Homo sapiens: one gene and its partners. The protein of the gene in region 3 purifies or fractionates together with the protein of the main gene of each other region. This does not show direct contact. Each region holds a gene or a part of one and is shown on either strand. Other genes may lie near its edges. The genes, in order: DMWD, PHLPP2, USP46 and RAD51AP1.

Region 1 (7,033 bases), on a different chromosome or scaffold from region 3:
ACACCCGGCCAATTTTTGTATTTTTGGTAGAGATGGGGTTTCACCATGTTGGCCAGGCTGGTCTCAAACACCTGACCTTGTGATCCGCCCACCTCGGCCTCCCGAAGTGCTGGGATTACAGGCATGAGCCACCGCGCCCGGCCATTCTTTGAGTTTTCATCAACCAGTGGATACAGAAGTGTGCTGCCCATTTTGCAGATTAGAGAATTGAGGCTAGTAAATAAGTCGGGACTTAGTTGATGCCCTTGCTCTTTGAGTTCTGGGCTCTGGAGGCTTTGGATTCAAAGCCCTGCTGCACCATTTACTCATCATGTGACTTTGGGAAGGTGACCATTCTCTGAGCCTCACTTCTCCTCCTCTGCAAAATGGGATTCCAGTTCCTACCTTGCAGGACCGCTGTTGTAGAATCATACATGGAGATTGCTCAGTCCTGGGCCAACTTGGCCTACGAGGAGATACCAGTAAACGACCTTATCCGCGGGCAGGGACTGCTCTTGGCTTCTGTCTCATTCTCTCTGGTCCAGAGGAGGTGTTCCATAAATATTCTCAGAATGAGTGAATGGCTGAAGGGAGTGAACGGAACAGTCAGTGGATTAAAAATTCATTAGCTCATCCATTCACAAATAGTTTTTGAGCATCCGTTCTGTGCCAGGCACCGTTCCCAGCACTAGGGATATCACATCTCAGGGCCCTGGACAGGAGGCCCTGCCCTTTTGGAGCTTTCAGTCTAGCTGGGGAGACAGACAGTTAATCAAGTTAAGTCTTCGTGTGTCAGCAGGTGATTAAGGCCTGTTTAGAAGAAGCAGTGGGGAAGGGGCTGAGGGAAGCTTGGAGAGTTTAGTAGGGTGGTCAGGAAAGCCCTCACTAAGAGGTGATACTGAAATAAAGACCTGAAGGAGGCAGGTGAGAAGAGTTGCCTGGGGAAGGGCATTTTTTTTTTTTTTTTTCCTGAGATAGGGTCTCACTCTGTCGTCCATGCTGGAGTGCAGTGGTACGATCTTCGTTCACTGCAACCTCCGCCTCCCAGGCTCAAGCAGTCCTCCCATATCAGCCTCCTGAGTAGCTGGGACTACATGCATGCACCACCACAACTGGCTAACTTTTGTATTTTTTGTAGAGGCGGGGTCTCTTTGTGTTGCCCAAGCTGGTCTCGAACTCCTGGGCTCAAGCTATTCTCCTGCTTTGGCCTCCCAAAGCGCTGGGATTATAGGCGTGAGCCATCACACCCAGCCAAGAAGGACATTCTGAGTATCGGGGCCAGCTAGGACAAATGCAGGATTGCACAGAAGCCGTGTGGCCAGTGCAGTTACTGAGGGAGAGAAGATGGTAGATGAGTTCCAAGAAATAACGGAGGGGCTGGCTCATGGAGAGTCTGGAAGGTCACGGAGAGATTTTGCCTTACTCTTAGTTGGAAGCCTGTGGAGGAGCCTTTCTCATTGGGGCTCACCTGAGCCCTGGAAGGCAGAAGTGACTAGAGTGATTATTTGTTCAGTTCTCCCAGGGATGGGAGGCACCTCATCCTGGGAGAGCAGCTCCTTAGTTGCATACACTGGCTGCCTGAGAGCATTAGGGCCTCAGGCTCTGGAACCCTGCTTGAGAGAGGCTGCGAAGTGTTCAGAGCAGGACAGTGCCAGGTGCTGGCTGATACTTCACAGAGCATCGCTGTGGCGGCTGCAGAGGACAGACAGGCCCAGGCATTGGAGCCTGAGGCCAGTCACACAGCATTGCAGGCTTGGGGTGGTTGAATGGGATGGTGAGAGGAGGTCAGATTCTGGGTGTATTTTTTCTTTTTTTTTTATTTTGAGGTGGAGTCTCGCTCTGTCGCCCAGGCTGGAGTACAGTGGCATGATCTCCCCTCACTGCAACCTCCGCCTCCCGGGTTCAAGCAATTCTGCCTCAGCCTCCTGAGTAGCTGGGACTATAGGCGCCCGCCACCATGCCTGGCTAATTTTTGTATTTTTAGTAGAGATTTTGTATCTCTACTTGTATTTCACCATATTGGCTAGGCTGGTCTGGAACTCCTGACTTTGTGATCCGCCTGCCTCAGCCTCCCAAAGTGCTGGGATTACAGGCGTGAGCCACCACGCCCAGCCACTTCTGGGTGTATTTTGAAGGTCGAGCCCACAGGATTTGTGGAAGGATTGGATGAGGAAAAGAGGGGCAGATGCCGAGGTTTTTTGTCTAAGCACCTAGCGGGATGGGGGGTTGTCACTCATTTGTCCAGGAATTACCTTCAAGCTGCCTCCTGTGTGCACTGCTTTAAAGAATAGTGAACCAAACAAAGATCGCTTCCTTTGGGGAGCTGCCTTTCCGTGAAGAAATTTCCTACTTGAAGCCTGACGTAGTAAAGATCGGGGGAGGGTTAGACAGATACAGTGGTCCCCAACCATTTTGGCACCAGGGACTGGTCTTATGGAAGACAGTTTTTCCACAGACTGTTGGGGGGATGGTTTTGGGATGAAACCGTTCTGCCTCTGATCATCAGGTGTTAGATTCTAATAAGGAGCGCACACCTAGATCCCTCGCATGCATAGTTCATGGTGGGGTTCGCACTCTTACGAGGATTGAATGGTGCGCTGCTCCGGTAGGAGGCTGGGCTCAGGCTGTAATGCCTGCTCGCCCACCACTCACCTCCTGCTGCATGGCCTGGTTCCTAACAGGCCACGGACCACTACTGTTCCATGGCCCGGAGGTTGAGGACCCCGAGATACAGGACAATTCTGTGGCAAGCAGGACTGTCCCCTCGCCAAAGATGGGACATCGAGGCTCCTTGGAGCACCCTGTGGCCACCTTGCAGCAGCCTCTGTTTCCCCATGTTTCCATGACCTGGTGTCCATCTGTCTTCCCCAGTTTGGGAGCTTCTCTCCGAGGAGGACCTGGGCCTGGTGTGGCACCTGCTGTGTGAGCGGGGCCATGTCCAACGGCCTTCTTGGGGACTTTGGGTCGGGGAGAAGTTCTGCCTGGGTTTTACTGCCTTCTCCCAACCCCACACTGTCTCCCCTGGCAGCGGTTGATCGACAAGACCAAGGTGACATATCTGAAGTGGCTGCCTGAGTCGGAGAGCCTGTTCCTGGCATCACACGCCAGTGGCCACCTGTACCTGTACAACGTCAGCCACCCCTGCGCCTCGGCCCCGCCCCAGTACAGCCTGCTGAAGCAGGGCGAGGGCTTCTCTGTCTATGCTGCCAAGAGCAAGGCACCCCGCAACCCGCTGGCCAAGTGGGCGGTGGGTGAGGGGCCCCTCAACGAGTTCGCCTTCTCGCCCGATGGCCGGCACCTGGCCTGTGTGAGCCAGGATGGCTGCCTGCGCGTCTTCCACTTCGACTCCATGCTCCTGCGTGGGCTCATGAAGAGCTACTTTGGGGGCCTGCTGTGTGTGTGCTGGAGCCCTGACGGCCGCTACGTGGTGACGGGTGGCGAAGATGACCTGGTCACCGTGTGGTCCTTCACCGAGGGCCGCGTGGTGGCTCGAGGCCATGGCCACAAGTCCTGGGTCAACGCTGTGGCCTTTGACCCCTACACCACAAGGGCAGAGGAGGCGGCGACAGCAGCCGGTGCTGATGGGGAGCGGAGCGGCGAAGAGGAGGAGGAGGAGCCCGAGGCTGCGGGCACAGGCTCGGCCGGGGGCGCCCCGCTCTCTCCACTGCCCAAGGCTGGCTCCATTACTTACCGCTTTGGCTCGGCGGGCCAGGACACGCAGTTCTGCCTGTGGGACCTCACTGAAGACGTGCTCTACCCGCACCCCCCCCTGGCCCGCACCCGCACCCTCCCTGGCACACCTGGCACCACGCCACCGGCCGCCAGCAGCTCGAGGGGTGGCGAGCCTGGCCCAGGCCCCCTGCCTCGCTCGCTGTCCCGCTCCAACAGTCTCCCGCACCCAGCTGGCGGGGGCAAGGCGGGCGGCCCGGGTGTGGCGGCAGAGCCTGGCACACCATTCAGCATTGGCCGCTTCGCCACGCTCACACTGCAGGAGCGGCGGGACCGGGGGGCAGAGAAGGAGCACAAGCGCTACCACAGCCTGGGCAACATCAGCCGGGGTGGCAGTGGCGGCAGTGGCAGTGGTGGGGAGAAGCCCAGCGGCCCTGTTCCCCGCAGCCGCCTGGACCCCGCCAAGGTGCTGGGCACTGCGCTGTGCCCGCGCATCCACGAGGTGCCCCTGCTGGAGCCCCTTGTGTGCAAGAAGATCGCCCAGGAGCGGCTCACAGTCCTCCTGTTCCTGGAGGACTGCATCATCACTGCCTGCCAGGAGGGCCTCATCTGCACCTGGGCCCGGCCGGGCAAGGCGGTGAGTGGCCCCACACCAGCCTGCCGGGGACCTGGCAGGACCTTTCGTGGGAAGAGGCAGGCATTGGCAGAGAGAGGGCTTTGTTGCTGTCACAGCCTCTGGCTCCGTGGGGTGAGGGGAAGCCAGGGAAATCTTAGTGTCTCAGTACAAGACCTCTCAGATCCTTAGAGTGAGGGGGTCTAGCCCTAGGCAGCAGGCAGCAGAAAGAGGGGTGGGTGTGAGAGCCAGCTAGGAATTGGGGCATCCAAGGCTGGCCGTCTGAAGGGCAGCAGATGGGCCCCACATGGCCAGGTCTTACTGCCTGTCACTCGAACCAGAATCTATTTCTGTTGAACATCTGTTTTTTAAATCGTGAAACTTTTTTGAGTACTTCAGGCCAAAACTAGGGGCGAGCTCAAGCCTGTGGGCATGGCTGCCAGCCTGGGTCTGGGACTCAGGATCTGAGCCTCCTGCTGAAGGCACAGGCTGGGAATCCCAGGCCTGGGTTCCAGTCCCACTCCCTCTGTGACCCTGGACAAGTCACTGCCCCCTCTGACCTCCAACTCATCACCTCTTAGAACAGAGCCTGTAGGATGGGCAGTGGGTGGATGTGCTTGCCTCCTGGGTGGGCTGTGGCGTTGGGAAGGTCATAGTAGGCGAATCAGGCCTGGCATCTTGTAAGTTCGGAGCTCGTCTTGGGTGTCTCAGCTTCTTAGGGCTTGGACTCAGTTGCCCAGGGTCCTGGAGGCCGTGGCTTGGTTCCTCAGATCCTCAGTTTTGGAATCGTAGAGTCCTGAGTCCCTAGAACTTGAGAGCACAGTCTGAGTGACTCAGAGGCAAGAGTGGTGGGATTTGGGGAGTCTGGTTGAGTCCTAAAAGAGACCCCTCTGTCTCCGTAGTTCACAGACGAGGAGACCGAGGCCCAGACAGGGGAAGGAAGTTGGCCCAGGTCACCCAGCAAGTCAGTGGTAGAGGTAGGACTGTCCCTGAGTTCTTTCCCCAGCACCTCAGGGTCCCTCCCAAGTTAGAAGGGAGCTCCAGTTTCCCCCTCCCCTCCCACCCTTACCCTTACCCCATGGTCTCACTCAGGATCCGCCAAGGACTTTGATTATTGCGTGAAAGTGCTGACTGCCAGGACAGGAAGCTAGCTAAGATGCAAGTTCCCAGCCTAGAGCAGTGGCCTCTGGGGGGTCTAGGGCGGACCCAAGGGCAAGGCCAGGGTGGCAGCAGCTTTGGGGACTCTGGGCTGGCTCCCTCCCCTTGACACTGGCTGAAGCCCAGGTGGTCTCTAACCCCTCCCATCTCTCCCTCTCATCTTCCCCAGGGCATCTCCTCCCAACCAGGCAACTCCCCGAGTGGCACAGTGGTGTGAAGCCATGGATATCGGGCCCCCCCAACCCCATGCCCCCAGCCTCCTAGCCATAACCCTCCCTGCTGACCTCACAGATCAACGTATTAACAAGACTAACCATGATGGATGGACTGCTCCAGTCCCCCCACCTGCACAAAATTTGGGGGCCCCCCAGACTGGCCCGGACACGGGCGATGTAATAGCCCTTGTGGCCTCAGCCTTGTCCCCCACCCACTGCCAAGTACAATGACCTCTTCCTCTGAAACATCAGTGTTACCCTCATCCCTGTCCCCAGCATGTGACTGGTCACTCCTGGGGAGAGACTCCCCGCCCCTGCCACAAGAGCCCCAGGTCTGCAGTGTGCCCCTCAGTTGAGTGGGCAGGGCCGGGGGTGGTCCAGCCCTCGCCCGGCCCCCACCCCAGCTGCCCTTGCTATTGTCTGTGCTTTTGAAGAGTGTTAAATTATGGAAGCCCCTCAGGTTCCTCCCTGTCCCGCAGGACCTCTTATTTATACTAAAGTTCCCTGTTTTCTCAGCGGGTCTGTCCCCTTCGGAGGAGATGATGTAGAGGACCTGTGTGTGTACTCTGTGGTTCTAGGCAGTCCGCTTTCCCCAGAGGAGGAGTGCAGGCCTGCTCCCAGCCCAGCGCCTCCCACCCCTTTTCATAGCAGGAAAAGCCGGAGCCCAGGGAGGGAACGGACCTGCGAGTCACACAACTGGTGACCCACACCAGCGGCTGGAGCAGGACCCTCTTGGGGAGAAGAGCATCCTGCCCGCAGCCAGGGCCCCTCATCAAAGTCCTCGGTGTTTTTTAAATTATCAGAACTGCCCAGGACCACGTTTCCCAGGCCCTGCCCAGCTGGGACTCCTCGGTCCTTGCCTCCTAGTTTCTCAGGCCTGGCCCTCTCAAGGCCCAGGCACCCCAGGCCGGTTGGAGGCCCCGACTTCCACTCTGGAGAACCGTCCACCCTGGAAAGAAGAGCTCAGATTCCTCTTGGCTCTCGGAGCCGCAGGGAGTGTGTCTTCCCGCGCCACCCTCCACCCCCCGAAATGTTTCTGTTTCTAATCCCAGCCTGGGCAGGAATGTGGCTCCCCGGCCAGGGGCCAAGGAGCTATTTTGGGGTCTCGTTTGCCCAGGGAGGGCTTGGCTCCACCACTTTCCTCCCCCAGCCTTTGGGCAGCAGGTCACCCCTGTTCAGGCTCTGAGGGTGCCCCCTCCTGGTCCTGTCCTCACCACCCCTTCCCCACCTCCTGGGAAAAAAAAAAAAAAAAAAAAAAAAAGCTGGTATAAAGCAGAGAGCCTGAGGGCTAAATTTAACTGTCCGAGTCGGAATCCATCTCTGAGTCACCCAAGAAGCTGCCCTGGCCTCCCGTCCCCTTCCCAGGCCTCAACCCCTTTCTCCCACCCAGCCCCAACCC
Region 2 (7,033 bases), on a different chromosome or scaffold from region 3:
TTATAGAAGATAGGAAGTTACAGCTAATGTCGGTGTGTGTCATGAGATTCATTTTTTTTTTTTCAAGAACAGTTTTGGGTGTTTAGCAAAGTATGTATAAACAATTAATGCCAAAAAAAATTTAAAAAGATTTTTTTTTAGAGACATAGCTTCATTGTGTAGCCCACGCTGGAGTGCAGTGGTGTGATCATAGCTCACTGCAGGTTCAAACTCCTGAGCTCAAGTACCTCAGCCTCTCAAGTAGCTAGGACTATAGGCACATGCCTGGCTAATTTTTATTTTTATTTTTGTAGAGATGGGGTCTTGCTATGTTGATCTCAAACTCCTGGCCTCAAGTGATCCTCTTAACCTTGGGCTCCGAAAGCACTGGAATTACAGGCATGAGCCACTGCACCCAGCCCAAAACGTTATTATTGTTATTATTTTTTTGAGGCAGAGCCTCTCTCTTGCCCAGGCTAGAATGCAGTGGCGCGATCATGGCTCAAGTGATCCTCCTGCCTTAGCTTCCTGAGTAGCTGGGATCATAGGCACGTTTTTTTTTTTGTTTGTTTGTTTTGTTTTTTTAGTAGAGATGAGGTCTTACCTTGTTGCCTAGGCTGGCCTTCAACTCCTGGGCTTAAAGGCTGTCCCTCCTCGGCATCCCAAAGTGCTGGGATTACAGGCATGAGCCACCGCACCCAGCCCCAAAACATTTTTAAAGCGCTGACATATTCTTTCTCTATCTCATCCCATCCCTCCCCACCGCTTTCACAATATTTAATAACGTGTGTATTCCCAGATATGAGTCTATATTGTTTTAAAGTTTTGAATGCAGAAACATCTTCTACCTAAGAGTATTTCACATTGTTTTTTTTTTTTTCGTCTTTTGTTTTTTTTTCCGAGGTGGAGTTTCGCTCTTGTTGCCCATGCTGGAGTGCAATGGCACGATCTTGGCTCACCGCCTCCCGGGTTCAAGCGATTCTCCTGCCTCAGCCTCTCGTGTAGCTGGGATTACAGGCATGTGCCACTACGCCTGGCTAATTTTGTATTTTTAGTAGAGACAGGGTTTCTCTATGTTGGTCAGGCTGGTGTTGAAGTCCTGGCCTCAGGTGATCCGCCTGCCTCAGCCTGCCAAAGTGCTGGGATTACAGGCATGAGCCACCGCACCCGGCCGTATTTCACATTCTTGCAGAACTAACTGAATATGGAGAGTTACTTTACCAGACCCTGTTTATACCATGTATATCTTATTATTGTATGTGAGTGTGTAATAGTATATCACCTTTGAACTGATCATTGCCCTCATGGAACACTTTTAGAGTTAAAAGTATAAAACTGGGCTGGGCACAGTGGCTAACTACTATAATCCCAACACTTTGGGAGGCCGAGGCGGGTGGATCATTTGAGGCCAAGAGTTCAAGACCAGCCTGGCCAACATAGTGAAACCCCGTCTCTGCTAAAAATATTTTTAAAAATTAGCTGGGCGTGGCCAGGCGCGGTGGCTCACGCCTGTAATCCCAGCACTTTGGGAGGCCGAGGCTGGTGGATCACGAGGTCAGGAGATCGAGACCATCCTGGCTAACACAGTGAAACCCCGTCTCTACTAAAAATACAAAAAATTAGCCAGGCGAGGTGGTGGGCGCCTGTAGTCCCAGCTACTCGGGAGGCTGAGGCAGGAGAATGGCATGAACCCCGGGGGGCGGAGCCTGCAGTGAGCCGAGATTGTGCCACTGCACTGCAGCCTGGACAACAGCGACACTCCGTCTCAAAAAAAAAAAAAAAAAAAAAAAATTAGCTGGGCATGGTGTTGTGCACCTGTAATCCCAGCTACTCAGGAGCCTGAGGCAGGAAAATCGCTTGAACCCGGGCGGTGGAGGTTGCGGTGAGCCGAGATCGTGCCACGGCACTCCAGCCTGGGCAACAGAGGGAGATGCTGTCTCCAAAAAAACAAACAAACAAAAGTGTAAAATTGAAGCAGTGGGTATTTAATTCATGGCTTACCCTCAAGACTTTTGCCTTCTAGAAAGATTTTTTTTTTTTTTAAAGACAGAGTCTCCTTGTGTCACCCAGGCCCATAGCTTATAGAAGATACGAAGTTACAACTAATGTCGGTGTGTGTCATGAGATTCTTTTTTTTTTTTCAAGAATAGTTTTGGGTGTTGAGCAAAGTATGTATAAACAATTAATGCCAAAAAAATTAAAAAAGATACTTTTTAGAGAGATAGCCTCATTGTGTAGCCCACGCTGGAGTACAGTGGCGTGATCTCCGCTCACTGCAGTCTCCACCTACTGTGTTCAAGCGATTCTCATGCCTCAGCCTCCAGGGTAGCTGGGATTACAGGCATGCGTGCCACCACCCCCGGGTAATTCTTCTGTATTTTTAATAGAGACGGGGTTTTGCTACGTTGGCCAGGCTGGTCTCGAGCTCCTGACCTCAGGTGATCCTGCCCGCCTCAGCCTCCCAAAGTGCTGGGATTACAGGCATGAGCCACTGCGCCCGGCTAGAAAGATCTTTAAATCTAAAATACGCTCTTTGTATACTTGTTTGATGTAAGAGGTAATTGTCATTGTGTTCCCTTTCAAATAAATTTGTGATAACAATTCTATAAGAGTAAGGGGAAAATAATTTTCTCAACCTAGCAATTCCAGTAGAATGGTGATTCTAAAAGTTGAAAGCACCTCAGAGGACCGTGTCATCTGCAGTCCTGGCTCCTAGGAAGGTTTTTCCAGCAGTTAACTGATGTGTTAAGCAGTGGAGCAAGACATTCTTGAGAAGAAGGAAGCACTAGGCAATTCAGCAGTGGCTAATAACAGCTAAACAGTCCATCTAGATTGTTGCTGTAAGCCTTTGCTTTGCTTAATATCCAGGCCTTTTAAGTGCCCATCGGTCAGGTTTAAGAGAATGATATATACTGAAGTTGTAACTTAGCAGTTTATCTTCTTAGGGCGGAATGTATCATGTAGACAGGAGATAGATCCTTTGAGGTAAATGATGACCAACAGCGTGTATATTTTGTTGTTGTTGTTTTAATCTTTATTTTATTTTAATTTTTTTTGAGACGCGGTTTCACTATGTTGCCCAGGCTGGTCTTGAACCCCTGACCTCAAGTGATCCTCCCTCCTTGGCCTCCTGAAGTGCTGGGATTACAGGCATGTGTTTTGTTTTTTTTTTTTTTGAGATAGAGTCTTGCACTGTCACCCAGGCTGGATTGCAGTGGCGCAATCTCGGCTCACTGTGGCCTCCGCCTCCCAGGTTCAAGTGATTTCCTTGCCTCAGCCTCCCAAGTATTTGGGATTTCAGGCGTGCACCACCACGCCCAGCTAATGTTTTTGTATTTTTAGTAGAGACGGGGTTTCACTATGTTGGCCAGGCTGGTCTCGAACTCCTGACCTTGTGATCCGCCTGCCTTGGCCTCCCAAAGTGCTGGGATTACAGGTGTGAGCCACTGCGCCCGACCGCATATATGTTTTGATAATGTAAAGTTCCTTAAGGAATTTATAATCTAAGGTAAATATATATGCACTAAAAATGACTGTTAAAAATCCTCACAGAAGAAAAATCAGGCCTGGTGTGGTGGCTCATGCTTGTAATCCCAGCACTTTGGAAGGCCCAAGCAGGAGGATTGCTTGAGTCCAGAAATTCAAGACCAGCCTGGGCAACATAGCAAGACTCCATCTCTTAAAAACATACAAAAAATTAGCTGGGTGTGGTGGCATGTGCATGTAGTCCCAGCTACTCTGAAGGCTGAGGCTTTAGGATCACTTGAGGTCAGGAGTTCGAAGCTGCCGTGGGCTATGATCACGCCACTGTAGTCCAGGCTGGGTGACAGAGCGAGATCGTGTCTCAAAACAAACAAAACTTCCTGGAGTCTTCCTTGACTTTTCTAAGATTTAGAAGGTCAGTGGACCATTATTTGACCTTAGAAAGTTGTTCTGAAGACGACTTTTTTGTTTGTGTGAAACAGTGTCTGCTTACTCTTTTTTCTCCACTGAGTAGAGAATGCGGAGCTTTGTATAAATATTGCTATACTATATGGAATACTGTTTTCAGATGGTCCAGTTAATCTTTCCCAAAGATTAAAAAATGAGGAGTATTTAAAATTTAACAGTATTTACCTACTAAATATTTAACTATTAGCAGTATTTGACTATTCAGTGGTTAAAATTACTTAGTACAAATACGATGGTCCCTATGTTTATGCAGTAAGCCCTTGAAAGCCCTTTCATTCTGAGATGTTCAGCTTTGAGAAAATGCATTTGATGAGAAAACTAGTTCTCACTTGTAGCAGGGATTTATCCTACTTCTCTAAAGTTAGATTCAATAATCCTCATGGTTTTGAATAGCAATGCCTAAATCCCCAAGATCTGCAAAATGATCAGTTTTCCTGAGTTCTAAATTTAAACAATAAAGCCATTCTTACTCTTGTTTTTCTTTTTTCCCACATAGAAATACCTGCTAACTTTTCATTCCTCTTTCTCTGACATCTTTAGAAATGTATTACCCTCAAATATTTAATCTTAGTAATTATAAAAATAGTATTTGCTGTATTTATAGGTATTTCTATTTTCCAATGAGGAATACTACTGAAAGTATTTTATTTACTCCCATTCACTTTGCAGCTGCTGCAAAGATGTAGGGTTCTCCATAGAAATGGGAATTTTCCCCCCCAAGTTTGTTCAGCTTCTTGCCAGAGCTAATTGGACTAAGGTACAGATTGGGAATAGGTTTCTGTGATGTCAGCTGAGTTCTACAAACACTTCTGTGTCACCCAGGTGTTAACATGCTAGAAATGGAGAAGAGGAAGAAATATCAAATAAATAAATAAAACCCATTGTCATCGATGTAGTATTAGAGGTGTACTCAAGGTGAAGAAGTTCTTAATTCTGTCTAGATAATTCATTAATTCTGTCTAGTAAAAATGTCTGGTAGTCATTAATTCTGTCTAGGGAGAATAAGGATAGGAGATATGGAAGGCTCCATAGAGAAGGTGATGCCTGAGTAGGATTTTGAAGAATAACTTGTCATATGGATGAGGTGGAGAAAGCCATTTCAGACAGGCCACAGAATTGTGGTGTACTTGGTGTGTTTGGAGAGCTGCAGGTAGTTGGAGGTGATTGAAACATGGAGTAAAGGGCAGTAGTAGGGAACGAAGCTGGAGAGGTATGGCTGCGGAAATGTCAGTGGAAATTTCTTTTTTATCAAAAAGAACAGAAATAGCCCATCATAAAAATAGAGCAGGCAAATGCTGATCTTTAGAAACTTGTTATATTACCTGTAGAAATTGTTTTTGCTTTGAGATAACTTGGCAATATATGAATTTCACATACCTAAATTATCAAATGCGACATTAATTTTTTTTGAAACAGGGCAGGAATGGAAAGTATATTTGTGCAGTATTGTGTTGATACTACACTTGGCTTATTTGGGATGTAAAGCAAAGGGTTAGGACCCTAGAGAAACACACATTTTCATAAGGAGACATGTACAAAAATGTTTATTGCTGGATTGTTTCTAGCAGTGAAAAATTGGAAGCAAACTGAATGCTGTCAACAGGAGAGTGGATAAAGTTTGGTGTATTTGTATAAGGGAATATTATTCAAATGAATGAACTGGGTATATTAACACAGTTGTATCTCTAAAGCAATATTGAACTAAATAAAATTACAGGGTGAAACATAAGTATTGTTAAGGATTAGATGAAGTTTAAATTAGATAAGACAATACTGTGTATGGTTTATAGATTAAAGTTTTTTTTTTTTTTTTGAGACAGAGTCTCTGTTGCCCAGACTGGAGTGCGGTGGCACAATCTCGGCTCACTGCAATCTCTGCCTCCTGGGTTCAAGTGATTCTCCTACCTCAGCCTCCCAAGTAGCTGGGATTACAGGCACGTGCCACCACACTCGGCTAATTTTTTGTTTTTTTTTTTTTTTTGTATTTTTAGTGGAGATGGGGCTTTACCATGTTGGCCAAGCTGGTCTCGAATTCTTGACCTCAAATGATCCCTCACCTGGGCCTCCTAAAGTGTTGGGATTACAGGTGTGAGCCACCTTGCCCAGCCTAAAGTTTCTTTTTTTTTGAGATGGAGTCTTGCTCTGTCACCCAGGCCGGAGTGCAGTGGCGCTGTCTTGGCTCACTGAAACCTCTGCCTCCCAGGTTCAAGCAATCTTCACACCTCTGCCTCCCAGGTAGCTAGGATTACAGGCGTGTGCCACCACAGCTGGCTAATTTTTTTGTATTTTTTAGTAGAGATAGGGTTTCACCATGCTGGCCAGGCTGGTCTCGAATTCCTGACCTCAGGTGATCCGCCAGCCTTGGCCTCCCAAAGTGCTGGGATTACAGATGTGAGCCACTGTGCCCAGGCAAAATATTAAAATTTCTATTTTTGAGAGACAAGGTCTCGCTCTGTCACCCAGATAGGGTTGCAGTGGCACAATCACGGCTCACTGCAACCTCAATCTCCCGGGTTCAATCTGTTCTCCAACTCAATCTGTTCTCCACCCTCAAGTAGCTGGGACTACAGGCGTGTGCCACCATGCCTGGCTAATATATAAAAAAAAATTTCTTTTGTAGAGATGGGATGTTGCCATCTTACCTAGGCTAGTCTTGAACTCCTGGCCTCAAGCAGTCCTCTTACCTTGGCCCCCCAAAGTGCTGGGATTACAGGCCTGAGCCACTGCAACCCGCTGTTTCGTTATTCTTGACACGTTTCTGAAAACACAAGGAAAAGAGAGGTCAACGAAGATGATGGATGGAAACACAGACAGCAGTAAAGAAAATTAAGTTATCTGAGTTATTACGAATGAGCATGATAGATGTGAAGTGCTCCACAAAAGGAGGGGATACTTGAGCAGAATGTTGGGGAATATAAAGTAGAGAGAGGTGGGGTGAGGACTGAAATGTCTAATTCAGTCAGATGTTCTAGCTAACGATTTCTTTCTCTTGATATTTTTTAGAGAAATATGAAACGCAATGGGAGCAGAAATTGTTTGAATAGGAGAAGTAGGTTTGGTTCTCGAGAAAGAGACTGGCTAAGAGAAGATGTAAAGAGAGGCT
Region 3 (7,033 bases):
CTTTAGATTCTTTGCTCAATAATGAATTGTTTTCAGGTAGGTGTCTTACAGGTCCCTTCTCACTGCTTAGCTCCTCTGTGGGCCTCTTACTGACCCTTCCCGCTCCTAACTTTGGTCCCAGCTGGTTTGAGTAGTTGTAGTAAGAGCAAATGGTGATTGCATTTTTTTCTTAAGCACATCGTTTAACATATTTTGAACAGGCTGATATGTGTTCAGAAAGGATATTAGAAGGTACCATTTTTCTGGGTAACAGGAAAAAACGAAGATCTATCATTGAAAGTGGATTTGTTTCCTCCACCAGATAAGAAAGGACCCAGCAGAGCAGAAATCAAATTTGTAGCAGATACTTCGTGTGATTGAGAACTAAACATCCCCTCTTTTCCCCATACTTCTTGTGCCAGTTTTAGTTATAGGAAACTTGGAAAATATCTTCATTCCTCCACTTACCCACCCACTTGCTGAAGTTTTATTGTTCACTGGAAGTTTAGTACTAGTTTCTATTTGTTTTAATTTTTCTTCCATGTGAATTCCTGCCATGGTAATTCTTGATGAACTTGCTCAGGGCAAGGCAGCTTGGCCACACAGCAGTGTGTGGTTCAGAGATAGTAAAGCTTGTTTGGCTGGTGTGTTGTAATTTTCATAATGCACTAGCTGCTACCAAGCATGAGGAAATGTCTTCTGTTGATAATCCTCTGATTTTTGTCCAGACCAATGGATTTAACTTCCTATATATTTTTATGGCCCTGCAAATGGAAAGTTTTTGTTTTTGGGTTTTTTAAGTTTCCTATTTGAAGAGCTTGAGAAATTTTCTAAAAAGGAAGCATTAGTTAGAAGAAACCAAATGTGACATACCAATGCAAGTTGCTTCAGATCATCTAATCTTATTTCATTTGTTAATAATGCTGTAAGATGTACCTCTGAGAAAATGCTGTGTATCAAATGATTACGAGTTTTGTTCCGATAAATGGCCATCTGTTGAGGACCTGCTATGTTGGTGTTGGCACAGACTATACTCAAGTGCTTAATAAATGAATGAGGTGAGTCCCTGTCCCCAAGGGGCTCAGCTGTTCCTTATCTTGTGGGTGTTAACATTGGTAAAGATGAAACAATTTCAATACAGTGTTATATCAGCACAGATAGAAGTTGAATAAACTCCCAGCAGCTGTACAGTGGAAAGACCGATTAACACAACAGGACATTTCAAAAATACATTCTCGTTTGACCAAAGTTGTATACACATTCTGCTTCTGGCTTTTATTTTATATGAGGACATGATTGTAGTCAATGTGAGTTAGAATTGAAATCTGCACCATTGGGTGTCTCTCCAGTTAAGCATGAATCTAATGGTGCTTTTGGGCAAACTGTTGTATTTCCGGAGACCTTAGTTTTTCTCATCTTGTAAAACTGATTTTCTGTTTTTGGTCATGAAAAACTTCATGGTAGAATTCCTTAGATAAAGGCTTTATGAAAATCTGCACCTCTTAATTGGTTAGCAACCACTTCATTACCTAACTACCTTGTTTAAAACTGTATTGAACTTATGACATGTTAGCATTTTAGCGTCTGTAGAACAGCCTCAGGATAATTTTTGACATCAGTTTGAGTGCCAGATTTTAGTTCTTTTAAATAAATGAGGTAGGCTGGGCATGGTGGCTCACTGGTAATACCAGTACTTTGGGAGGCCGAGGCAAGAGGATTCTTTGAGCCCAGGAATTCAAGATCAGCCTAGGCAACATAGTGAGACCCAATCTCTACCAAAAAGAAACAAACAAAATCATGTAAATAAAAATGTATCATATAAATAAATGAAGTTATCTGGAAATAAAGGGAAAGTAAACATTACAATTTTGAAACAAAACTAGAGTATTTTTATAGTTTTATCTTGATAAGTCAACTACTTACCTAAGGCAAGTATTTTGAGAATGGTTGGAAACAACTTTTTAATTATTAAAAAATATGTCCATCTTGTGATTTGGGGGAACAGATATCTTGCCTTTTCCTCTGTTACTGTTATTCATGCTTTCCATTCTCAAAGATAGTTGGCAATTATAAGTTTAGTTAATATATCAGCTAGGTGTAAAGTCATATGAGGGTCTACTCTGATAGTTGCTGGGATTAGAAAATACAGTCTGAGGTGAGGTGGATTAATGTTTAAAGAAAAGAAATTCTGTTTTTCTGGCCCCACTGGTCTCATATGCAGAGGTTTATATTAGGTCGGGACCTGACAATTAGTTCTGCGGATTTTTCTGTTTTTCTTGGACTCCTCAGAGAAAACAAAGTTGAATGCTGGTATTTAGTTAGAATGAAAGATTATGATACCTTTTCTGTATAACAACTTTATGTGCTTCAGTTCACTCATACCATAAAATCTGTTTATTTATTCTTCACTAAGTGGAATTTTGGTATGTTTGGGTTATAATTGAAAGGCATTTTCAATTTTGATTCTCTTAGCAATTAAGAGAAATTTCTCTAGCTCAGATGTCTTTTTTTTCCCCCTCCTGGTCTTTCTAGTTAGTGTGAATAGATTGGGGTTCCATGATGGTATTAAATTCTGTGGTATCATCAGAAAGGTATTTGGTAACCACCTATCTCTATCTCTAGCTTACCCATGAAGCCACCCAAAGCTAACTAACTGGAAGAGATGTAAAAGATGGTGTCTTTTAGTCTAGTTAACTTTTCTGGTCTAATTATTTTAATGCAGCTTCTTATAACAAACCTTCAGTTGTGGTGGAACCAAATGCTGATCTAAGGGTTTGAAAGGCCTTGGTGGTCTTTAAGAGAAAAGGCCACCCAAAAATCAATCAGCAAAATCTTTTTTTTTTTTTTTTTTTTTTTTGAGATAGAGTTTTGTTCTTGTTGCCCAGGCTGGAGTGCGATGGCTTCACTGCAACCTCTGCCTCCTGGATTCAAGTGATTCTCCTGCCTCAATCTCCTGAGCAGCTGGGATTACAGTTGCCTGCTACCATGCCTGGCTAATTTTGCATTTTTAGTAGAGATAGGGTTTCACCATGTTGGCCAGGCTGGTCTCAAACTCCTGACCTCAGGTGATCCGCCCGCCTCAGCCTCTCAAAGTGCTAGGATTATAGGTGTGAACCACTGTGCCCTGCCACGAAAACATTCTTGAGACGAACTCTGTGTTAGCGAACAACCCTAACAGTAAAGGGTTTTTGGAATATTTCTCTTCTGGGACTATGGCTTGAAGTTTGAGGGATGCTGTAAGTGCTGTACATGGAAGTTTACCCCAATTCTCAGAATGATTCTTTGCAATGGATAGTTTTAAGATCATGGTGATGGGACTCTGTGGTCGCCAAAGCTTCACTTTACCCTCATAGGGCCAACCTTCCTTTTCTTCCTCAAGTTCCAATGTCACTTTTAGAACCCTCAGATACTTTTTAAATTAGCTCAGACTTTGCCTTTTTTTCTGAGTGATGGTGAATTTTAGACATACAGAAATGTGGAATAATAGAGTGAATACTCGTGTACTCCCCACCCAGTGAAGAAATAAAATACTATATATACATTTAAAACCACCTATGAGTCCTTCCTGATCTCATTGCCTCTCCCCACAGAGTGACCACTATTCTGCATTTAGTGTTTATTGTATATTTTTATATTTTTACTAGATTTGTATGCATTCATAAACTAGATATAGTGTATTTTTTCATGTTTTAAACATGCTTTATAATATTAAACATTCCTCTCAGTTTGCTTTTATTGTTTAAATTGTGATTTTGCTATTTATCCATTGAGAGACACATAATCCTAGTTTATTTTAACTGCTGTATAACATTCCATTATATAAATATGCTATGACACATTCATTTTAATGTTGTAAGCAGGTTTACAAATTTGTGAGTGTGCTGTTTTAATGCAATGAACAGTTGTGAACTCATCTCCCTGTGTATAGTATACACAGTTGACAGTTGACAGTTTCTCTGTGGTGTAAACCTGGAAGGGAATTGCTGGGTCAAAGGAATTTGATCGTCTTCTTTAATAAGTTGCCTGATTGCTCTCCAAAGAAGTTATGCCAATTTGCATTCCAACCAAGCAGCGTTTGGGGGTTCCAGTTGCTTCACATGTTTGCAGATATTTGATATTGCTAGACTTGATGTTTTGCCAGTCTGATGGGTGTGACATTGTGCCTTTGTGGTTTAAAATTTGCACTTTTCCTGTTTGCTAGGGGAGGTTGAACATCTTTTCATGTGTTTGTTATGCTGGTTTGTTTTCAACTCAGGGGCCTGAGAACAGTTTTCCAGGTCTTGAAAGTCAGGATTGTAGTTTTGGTTTTGTCTGAAAACAGGGACAATGAAGAAGGGACAGTGAAGAGGAAAATCAAGGAGACCAAAGCAAAAGTCATGAAAGGTAGGGATGGATTGGAAGATGCAGGTGAAAAAAATGATGACAAGATAATCACTGTGGAGGGGTGAAAACTAGTAACAAAAAGATAATAGAGTAGCACTGAGAAGATACCTTGAATTTTGAGAGTAAATTTGGGAGACCTGCCTGTGCCAGCAAGGCCTTGTTCAAGCCACATTTGCTTTGTTTAATTGACATTGGCTTTAGTGAAAATCGTGTCTGGGGCCTGTTCTGGTGAGAACAGCAGCAAAGCTGGACTTGCAGAGTTTTCCTGTTTACCCAGTTGCTTTTTCAAGTTCTTTTAGAAAGGCATTGTGAAACGATGGTCATCTTCCTAAAATACATTTCTCTGTCCTTCAGGTTAGGTACACAGTGCAGGAAAATTTTTATCTGGATCTGCTTGAATATATACTGGTGGAATTACTGTCTTAAATATTTAGAAAGTATTCTCTACACTTCATTTTAATTTTCAGAGTATGATGAGTATTACCTCATTAAACAAAGAAATGTATGGTTTTAGGTTCTTTGGTGTACCAAAGAATGGTTCCCACATGTGCATTCTCTTATTAAAAATTTAGACTCTGGGGTTCAACACCCAGAGAGTTTGATTAAGTAGGTCTTAGTTGGGGCTCTGGAATCTGCCTTTTAAATTAGTGTTCCCTCCTCCTTCTACTCCCTCCACATTCTGTTATAGGTGAGCTGAGGACCATGCTTGGAGAAATATTGCTTCCCTTGGGTAATAACCTCAGCCTCTTAAAAAATATTGCTTAAGAAATTACCTGCCATGTGAAAGTTTTTAAAAAAATGAATGTAAAATTATTTAAGCTAGTAACTTAACTTTTTCTGTTCTTTTTTCTCTTTCTTTCTTTTTTTTTTTTTTTTTTGAGATGGAGTCTCACTCTGTTGCCAGGCTGGAGTACAGTGGCATGATCTCAGCTCACTGCAACCTCTGCTTCCAGGTTCAAGCGATTCTCCTGCCTCAGCCTCCTGAGTAGGGTACTACAGGCACGTGCCCCCTTGCCCAGCTAATTTTGTATTTTTAGTAGAGACAGGGTTTCACCATGTTGCCTGGGATGGTCTTGATCTCTTGACCTCGTGATCCGCCCACCTTGGCCTCCCAAAGTACTGGGATTACAGGCGTGAGCCACTGCACCCGGCCAACTTAACTTTTTCTTGGTATTAAATAGCCAGGTTTTGTATTAGTTTATATATTCAGAACAGAGATTTTCAGCACTGGCTTTATATCATATCACCTGTGAAGCTTTTAAAAGAAATTTTAAAAATAATAATTAAATCACAAAACATTAACATACAAAAAAGCATGAAAAAATAATGTTATATATGTTTACCTACCCTTCAGATTTAACAGATATTAAAATGTAGCCATATTTGGTTACTTTTATTTTTAGACATATTACTGTAAAAACAGCACTAACTCTTTTTAGACTCTTTTACCTTAAAAACAGACACTAACTCAACCCAATCTCTTTCCTTTCTCTTCCTCCCAGAGCAAACCATTTTCCTGAAGTTGATATGGTGTTTACCAAACATGTCTTATACTTTACTTTGTATTTATGAATTCATAAGCAATGGATTGCAACGTTTGTGTGTGGATAAAATCGTGTAGCTTTTTGCAACTGTCTTTCTTTACTCAACAAGTATATTTGAGATTATGTCAACACATAGAGGTCGAGTTTATTCATTCTGACTGCTCTGTAACAGGATTCTTTGACTTAACCATGGTTTACTTATTCATTCTCTTATTTAGGGGCAGTTTGGTAGTTTCTACAATATTCTCTCTGGAAACAGTGTTGCAGCGAATGTTCTTGCTTCTGTCTTCTTTGCTCAGGTGTCTTCATTTCTTTAGGGTATAATCCTGGAAGTCAATATGCTGCTTTTAGGATGCGCCCATCTGCAGCTTTGCTAGGTGTGTCAAATTGCTCTCCAAAGTGGTTCCACCAATTGGAGCTTTATTGACATGCAGTTTCTAGGGTCCCAGTCTCCAGCGTTTCTGACAGTATGTAGATATAGGTAGTCTGGGGTGAATTTTAGGCACCTGCGTGTGTATGTGTGTGTGTGTATTTTAAGTGCCACAGTTGATTCCGATGTGAGCATCCAAGGTTGATAAACCACCATGTTAGACTGACAACTCTATGAGGGCAGGAACTGTATTTATTTGTATTATTCAGTGTTGATTTCCCAGCTGTCAGCACAGTGCCTAGCACATATGTGGTTGGTGCTCAATAAATAAATATTGATAAATGAATGAAGGGATGTAATTTGGTAGAATGGAAGAATTGCCTTGGAGTAAAGCAGTATGCCTCCAATTTTATCATGCATAGGCATTAGCTGGAGGTCTAGTTGAAATGTCAATTTGGATTCAGCACGTCTGGGGCAGGGCGGAGATTTTGCACTTCTAACAAACTCTCTGGTGGTACAGATAATGCTGGTTTCGGGACCATTTTTAGAGCAGCAAGGCTTTGGGAAAAACAAAACAACTTCTATTTTCCATATAGTTGTAAAGTGGAGGAGTTTGGAATTCAGAATCCTGTTTGGTAAATCTCAGATCCTATTTATCTTTTTACAACAAAGGTAGTCAATGAAATACCTTCTTTAAAGCTTTTTGGGGAGCATCAGAAGAGATCCTGCCCATGGAAGCACTGTGTGAGCTATGATG
Region 4 (4,691 bases), on a different chromosome or scaffold from region 3:
CTGAAGTCTAGTGACTAAACCTTAAAGTCCTTGGGAGCAGGAGCCATGTTTCTAACCCTAGAGCCTGACACATAATCTCACTGACACATACTCACGAGACACTATTGTGTAATGGTTAGTTACAAGGATGGGATTTTGGAGGAAAATCTGGTTTCTAAGCTTAGATGCTTACTAGCTGTCAGACTACAGGCAGATTGCTTAACGTCTCTGTTTCCTTCTCTGAGAGTGGGGATAGTAATATCTGTATTGGAGTTGTTGTAAAGAGTTAGAGGTAATGTGTGTGATATGCCTACCACACTGCCTGGCATATTAATGCTCATAAAAGATGGCTATTCTTAGGCTCTCAATAAATGTTTGTTGATTAATAAGTTTATTTTTTATATGATTATGTAACTTTATAATTTTTACACATATATGCTAGACTTACTTTTTCTTCCTGCATGACAAACATTTTTACGTATATTTTTCAAATAAGTGACTTCGGTGGACTCTGCTCCAGCTGCCGTCAAATCAGAATCTCAGTCCTTGCCAAAAAAGGTTTCTCTGTCTTCAGATACCACTAGGAAACCATTAGAAATACGCAGTCCTTCAGCTGAAAGCAAGAAACCTAAATGGGTCCCACCAGGTATGGCATATTTATCATCAAGGACAGGAGCTTGGAAAATTATCACTGGTAAATTTTTTTCCTAGTTACAAACATCATGTGTGAGCATTTCCCCATATTATTACATATTCTTCAAAACCAAAGTTCCTGGTTGCTGCATATATTCATTTATTTAACCATTCCTTATTATTGGACATCCAGGTTTATTATTTTTTCAGTGCTATAAATAAGATTGCAATAAGTGCAAATGTCCTTATTTTAGAAATCTCTGGGCATATTACTGATTATTTTCCTAGGATAAAATTTCTAGTAGGAAAATTACAGTGTTAAAGGGTGTAAACATTTGAGATTCCTGAAGTATGTATTTCTGGCAGCAAATCTTTTGCTCAGGACCTGCTGACCTCCACAGTCTGACTGAAGCCTTGGGATCTATATGTGGCAATTCTAGCATTTAACAAATGCCCTAGCAAACTCAACCTCTTGCTTTCACAAATTTCACTTCTCTGTTTTCTTTTGCTCCACAGCCAAGTCTCATGGATCCTTCAAGAATTCTTTGACCTTCACCCTTCTTGACATTACTAAAACCCTAATCCAGGCCCAAATTGTTGCTGCCTTTCCTAACCAGTCCTGTCTTTACTTTCTGTCATCCACCTGCATGAACCGTCCACTTCAGTGAAATTGAAACACTTTTTGTCTCTCAAACATGTTGTATGTATGCCTCTCTCAGGGCCTCTCTTAATCCTCCTCTGCCTGGTGTGTCTTTCTTCATGTGTCCCCTCTCCTTGCCTGAGCCCTTCCAATTCTACTCCTGTTTTTCTTTTGAGGGGCCTCTCTTGATTGGTCCACAGTGCTCACTCCCCTGCTGACTACTATTCATAGATTTAGGCGTGAGCTGTGAGGCTGCATGATTACTTAACTTACAGAGTCTTCATTTCATCATGTGAAATATTGGGAACAACTGTAATCTTTAAAGTCCATTCTGGTTTACAACTTCTAAGATTTTTAATGAGGACTTAAAAACTTTTTGGAGAAGGAAAGGAGGGAAGATTAATTACTTGATGTCATATCATTCAAAGAGTAATACTTAGTATATTTCTAAAAATAATTAATGCTTCCCCAATGAAGGAAATTTAAATGGAGTGATATAACTATAGAAATTTAAAAGTAGCATAATTAAAAAAATACAAGGAAACAGTGGAATGATGGATAAAGAGTTAATGTCATCAAGCACAAAGTGCTTATCAAGTCAGCATGTGACAGTCAGGCAAGTGATGTAAACGAGTGAATTGGGCCCATGCAGTAGACTTGCGTGGGTAGGAATTTTGTTGGACTCAGGAGCGCGTACCCTTTTGAAGGAAGCAGCTGCTACTCAGCTCCATCGTATTGTTTCCATGCAAGATTATGGGCTTGGTATTTCTAGATCTGATTGCTGTTTTCAAGAGAAGCCAGAAATCCAGATTTTAATATGAAATCTGCTAATTTTTGTAAGTTGATTTTTTTTGTTGTTGTTGTTAGCACCATGTGAACCAAAACAATATATCTGAGAGCTAGATTTGGCCCTCAGATTGCCAGTTTGTTACCTATCTTATACAACTGGAGAAGACCACCAAGACCCCAAAAGTAAAATTAGCCAGAGGCATAAATATAACAGTGTCCCCAAGAACTATTAATACAACAAGAAAATATGAAGAGTTTCAGTCTCACTGGTAATTAAGGAAGTGTAAATTAAAATAAAATACTATTTTATACCTTTCAAACTAGAAAACAATAAAGCAGTATAGTCTGAGTTATAGGGTAGCAGGTATAATTATTTATTTTAAATTTATAATACTGTTGTGTAGGCGAGCAACTACAGTCACCATCAACTGTGAACATTCATGTGGATAATTTTGAAATAGATGGAAATAATTGCGACATTAGGATAATAGTATAATGAAACTAGTATAAATAAATAACAATATTTGCCATTTTTAAAGGTATTTAATAATTGAAAAATAGACTCTTCAAGGACTACTTGTAAAAATTGCAGGACCTTAAAAATGCATTTGCTTTTTCTATTACTTTAGAAATTATAATTATATGCATTTTTGTATGCCTTTACAACTAGCATTATTTGTTCCCAGCCTTCCTTTTTCAGCTTTCATGGTGAGGTTTTAGTGTCATTACCTTGGCTTCTGGGATGTTTGGAAATAGGCAATACTGTATTAATTTCTGCTCTTTAGAACATTCTGTTCTTTTGATCTAGTTTATTGCTTGATAGACACTGGAAAGCAGAATAATGCTTAACTACCTTTTTTTTGCTGCTTATTTTATAAATTAATCTTTGTTAAGAGATTTCTGACATCATCAGCATCACATCATATGTTTCCTTTCAGCGGCATCTGGAGGTAGCAGAAGTAGCAGCAGCCCACTGGTGGTAGTGTCTGTGAAGTCTCCCAATCAGAGTCTCCGCCTTGGCTTGTCCAGATTAGCACGAGTTAAACCTTTGCATCCAAATGCCACTAGCACCTGAGTGTGGTACAGGAGGAATGTTTGGTTGGGAGAATCACAGCTTTACAAGGGTGTTTATATTTGATTTGTGTTTATATTTGAGGCAGGTATTGTAATATAAAGGAATCCATTACCATGTCCTATAAATGACCTCTAGCCATTTTATGATTATGTTCTCTGTAAAACTCTTCAAGACTTCAATGAGAAGTTTGTTTATAAGAATTATCTTCTCATACCTTTCCTTGTGAAGAGCGTATTCTGTTTTTCTATCAGTTCGACATGAAGTCCACATCACATGCTGTTCTTTTCTAGTTACATGATGTGCCTTTCTAGCTTTGTCTAGTTTATAGCACCTTAACTTTAACTGTTCAGTTTTATCTGGCAGAGGAAAACATTCTTATTTCTTTCAGAAGACATTTCTGAAATCTTATAAGCTACTTAAGCTACGTTGTCAGTTTTATCGCAAAGATGTTTTGTATTTTAGCCAAATCTTTTTATAGTACAAACTTAGAATTATTTTACACACTAAAATGGTTGCAGTTTTATGGCATATGTCTCCGATTTAGATGGTTATTCTCTAGAAAATAGTATTTAAAGACATTTTATGAAATCTTCATTGTCAAAACCTTTAATAAAAGTGGAAATATTTTGAAATGCCCTTTTTCTTGATACCACTCATCCACGTGTTCCTGATTGTCCACATTTCATGATAAAATGAGAGCTCCGCAGAGAATGTTAGCCTTTCTGTTGTAAATGTAATCTTCAAGTAGTCACTTTTTGTTAAGTTCTTTAGAAAGTAGTTGTCAAGTACTTAGTCATCCCTATTATGATATGAGATAGTACAGCTTTTCAGGAAGCTTAGATCTGAATTTACTTTGAAAAACAATTGTAATGAATATTTTATATTTACATTGAGAATTTCAACTAGCTTCTGATCAATTTTTAATAAAAAATTTTCAAATCATGTTAGCTGTTAAAAAATGTATAATAACTCAGTTTTTCTTGGTTTATGGAAATATCTATATTAATGTGAAAATAATTAATTTAGAATTGTGATTAAAGTGAGCATTTGTCTATTGCTGTTGTACACTTCTTTTATCTAACGTATATTTTTATAGTGTCATATACCAGCCCCCTAACCTGCCCCACCTGTCCCCTTTTTAAAAACATATTTTCCAGTTACATAGCACTGAGGTACTCTATTTGGTGTAGATCAACAATAAACATAAGAGCCTACTGTATATTAGGTACTGATATAATTGATTAATCATCTGGCACCAGCTCAATAACCTGTTTTTGCCGTGTTCTTTATAGTTTATCAGGGGATTTGAAAATTACCTCAAAGTATGTTAAAACCAGCCTGGCTGAAAGCACTGATACCTTTATGTTGCCAAACCCAGTGTACAATTTTCTCACCTAATCTTATACACCCTATTCATTATACTCTGATGAAAACATTTGATTTCCTTGGCTCATGTGACACATTTCTTTGTCATTTCTTCCCATCTCCATGCCTACTCTTCATTATTTTGCAGCTTTCTAATCTGTTGTGTCACCTTTACCTACTTGTCTTACCAGTTTCATGTTCTATGCAAAC

What was found.
Region 1: the proteins of USP46 (region 3) and DMWD purify together in Homo sapiens (affinity purification with mass spectrometry; 7 studies listed by BioGRID and IntAct, with this or other methods). This does not show direct contact.
Region 2: the proteins of USP46 (region 3) and PHLPP2 purify together in Homo sapiens (affinity purification with mass spectrometry; 6 studies listed by BioGRID and IntAct, with this or other methods). This does not show direct contact.
Region 4: the proteins of USP46 (region 3) and RAD51AP1 purify together in Homo sapiens (affinity purification with mass spectrometry; 4 studies listed by BioGRID and IntAct, with this or other methods). This does not show direct contact.

What each region holds. Positions count from the first base shown.
Region 1 is NC_000019.10:45,782,846-45,789,878, reverse strand, and holds the end of DMWD (dystrophia myotonica WD repeat-containing protein), read left to right. Parts: intron 1-3,007; coding exon 3,008-4,285; intron 4,286-5,163; coding exon 5,164-5,238; intron 5,239-5,588; coding exon 5,589-5,636; 3' UTR 5,637-6,932; downstream 6,933-7,033. UniProt on the Homo sapiens protein: Regulator of the deubiquitinating USP12/DMWD/WDR48 complex. Functions as a cofactor that promotes USP12 enzymatic activity.
Region 2 is NC_000016.10:71,714,702-71,721,734, reverse strand, and holds part of PHLPP2 (PH domain leucine-rich repeat-containing protein phosphatase 2), read left to right. Parts: intron 1-5,894; exon of another isoform or gene 5,895-6,181; intron 6,182-6,500; exon of another isoform or gene 6,501-6,933; 5' UTR 6,934-6,939; coding exon 6,940-7,033. UniProt on the Homo sapiens protein: Protein phosphatase involved in regulation of Akt and PKC signaling.
Region 3 is NC_000004.12:52,649,299-52,656,331, reverse strand, and holds part of USP46 (ubiquitin carboxyl-terminal hydrolase 46), read left to right. Parts: exon of another isoform or gene 1-21; coding exon of another isoform or gene 22-36; intron 37-7,033. UniProt on the Homo sapiens protein: Deubiquitinating enzyme that plays a role in behavior, possibly by regulating GABA action. May act by mediating the deubiquitination of GAD1/GAD67.
Region 4 is NC_000012.12:4,555,878-4,560,568, forward strand, and holds the end of RAD51AP1 (RAD51-associated protein 1), read left to right. Parts: intron 1-475; coding exon 476-625; coding exon of another isoform or gene 626-673; intron 674-2,979; coding exon 2,980-3,116; 3' UTR 3,117-4,170; downstream 4,171-4,691. UniProt on the Homo sapiens protein: Structure-specific DNA-binding protein involved in DNA repair by promoting RAD51-mediated homologous recombination.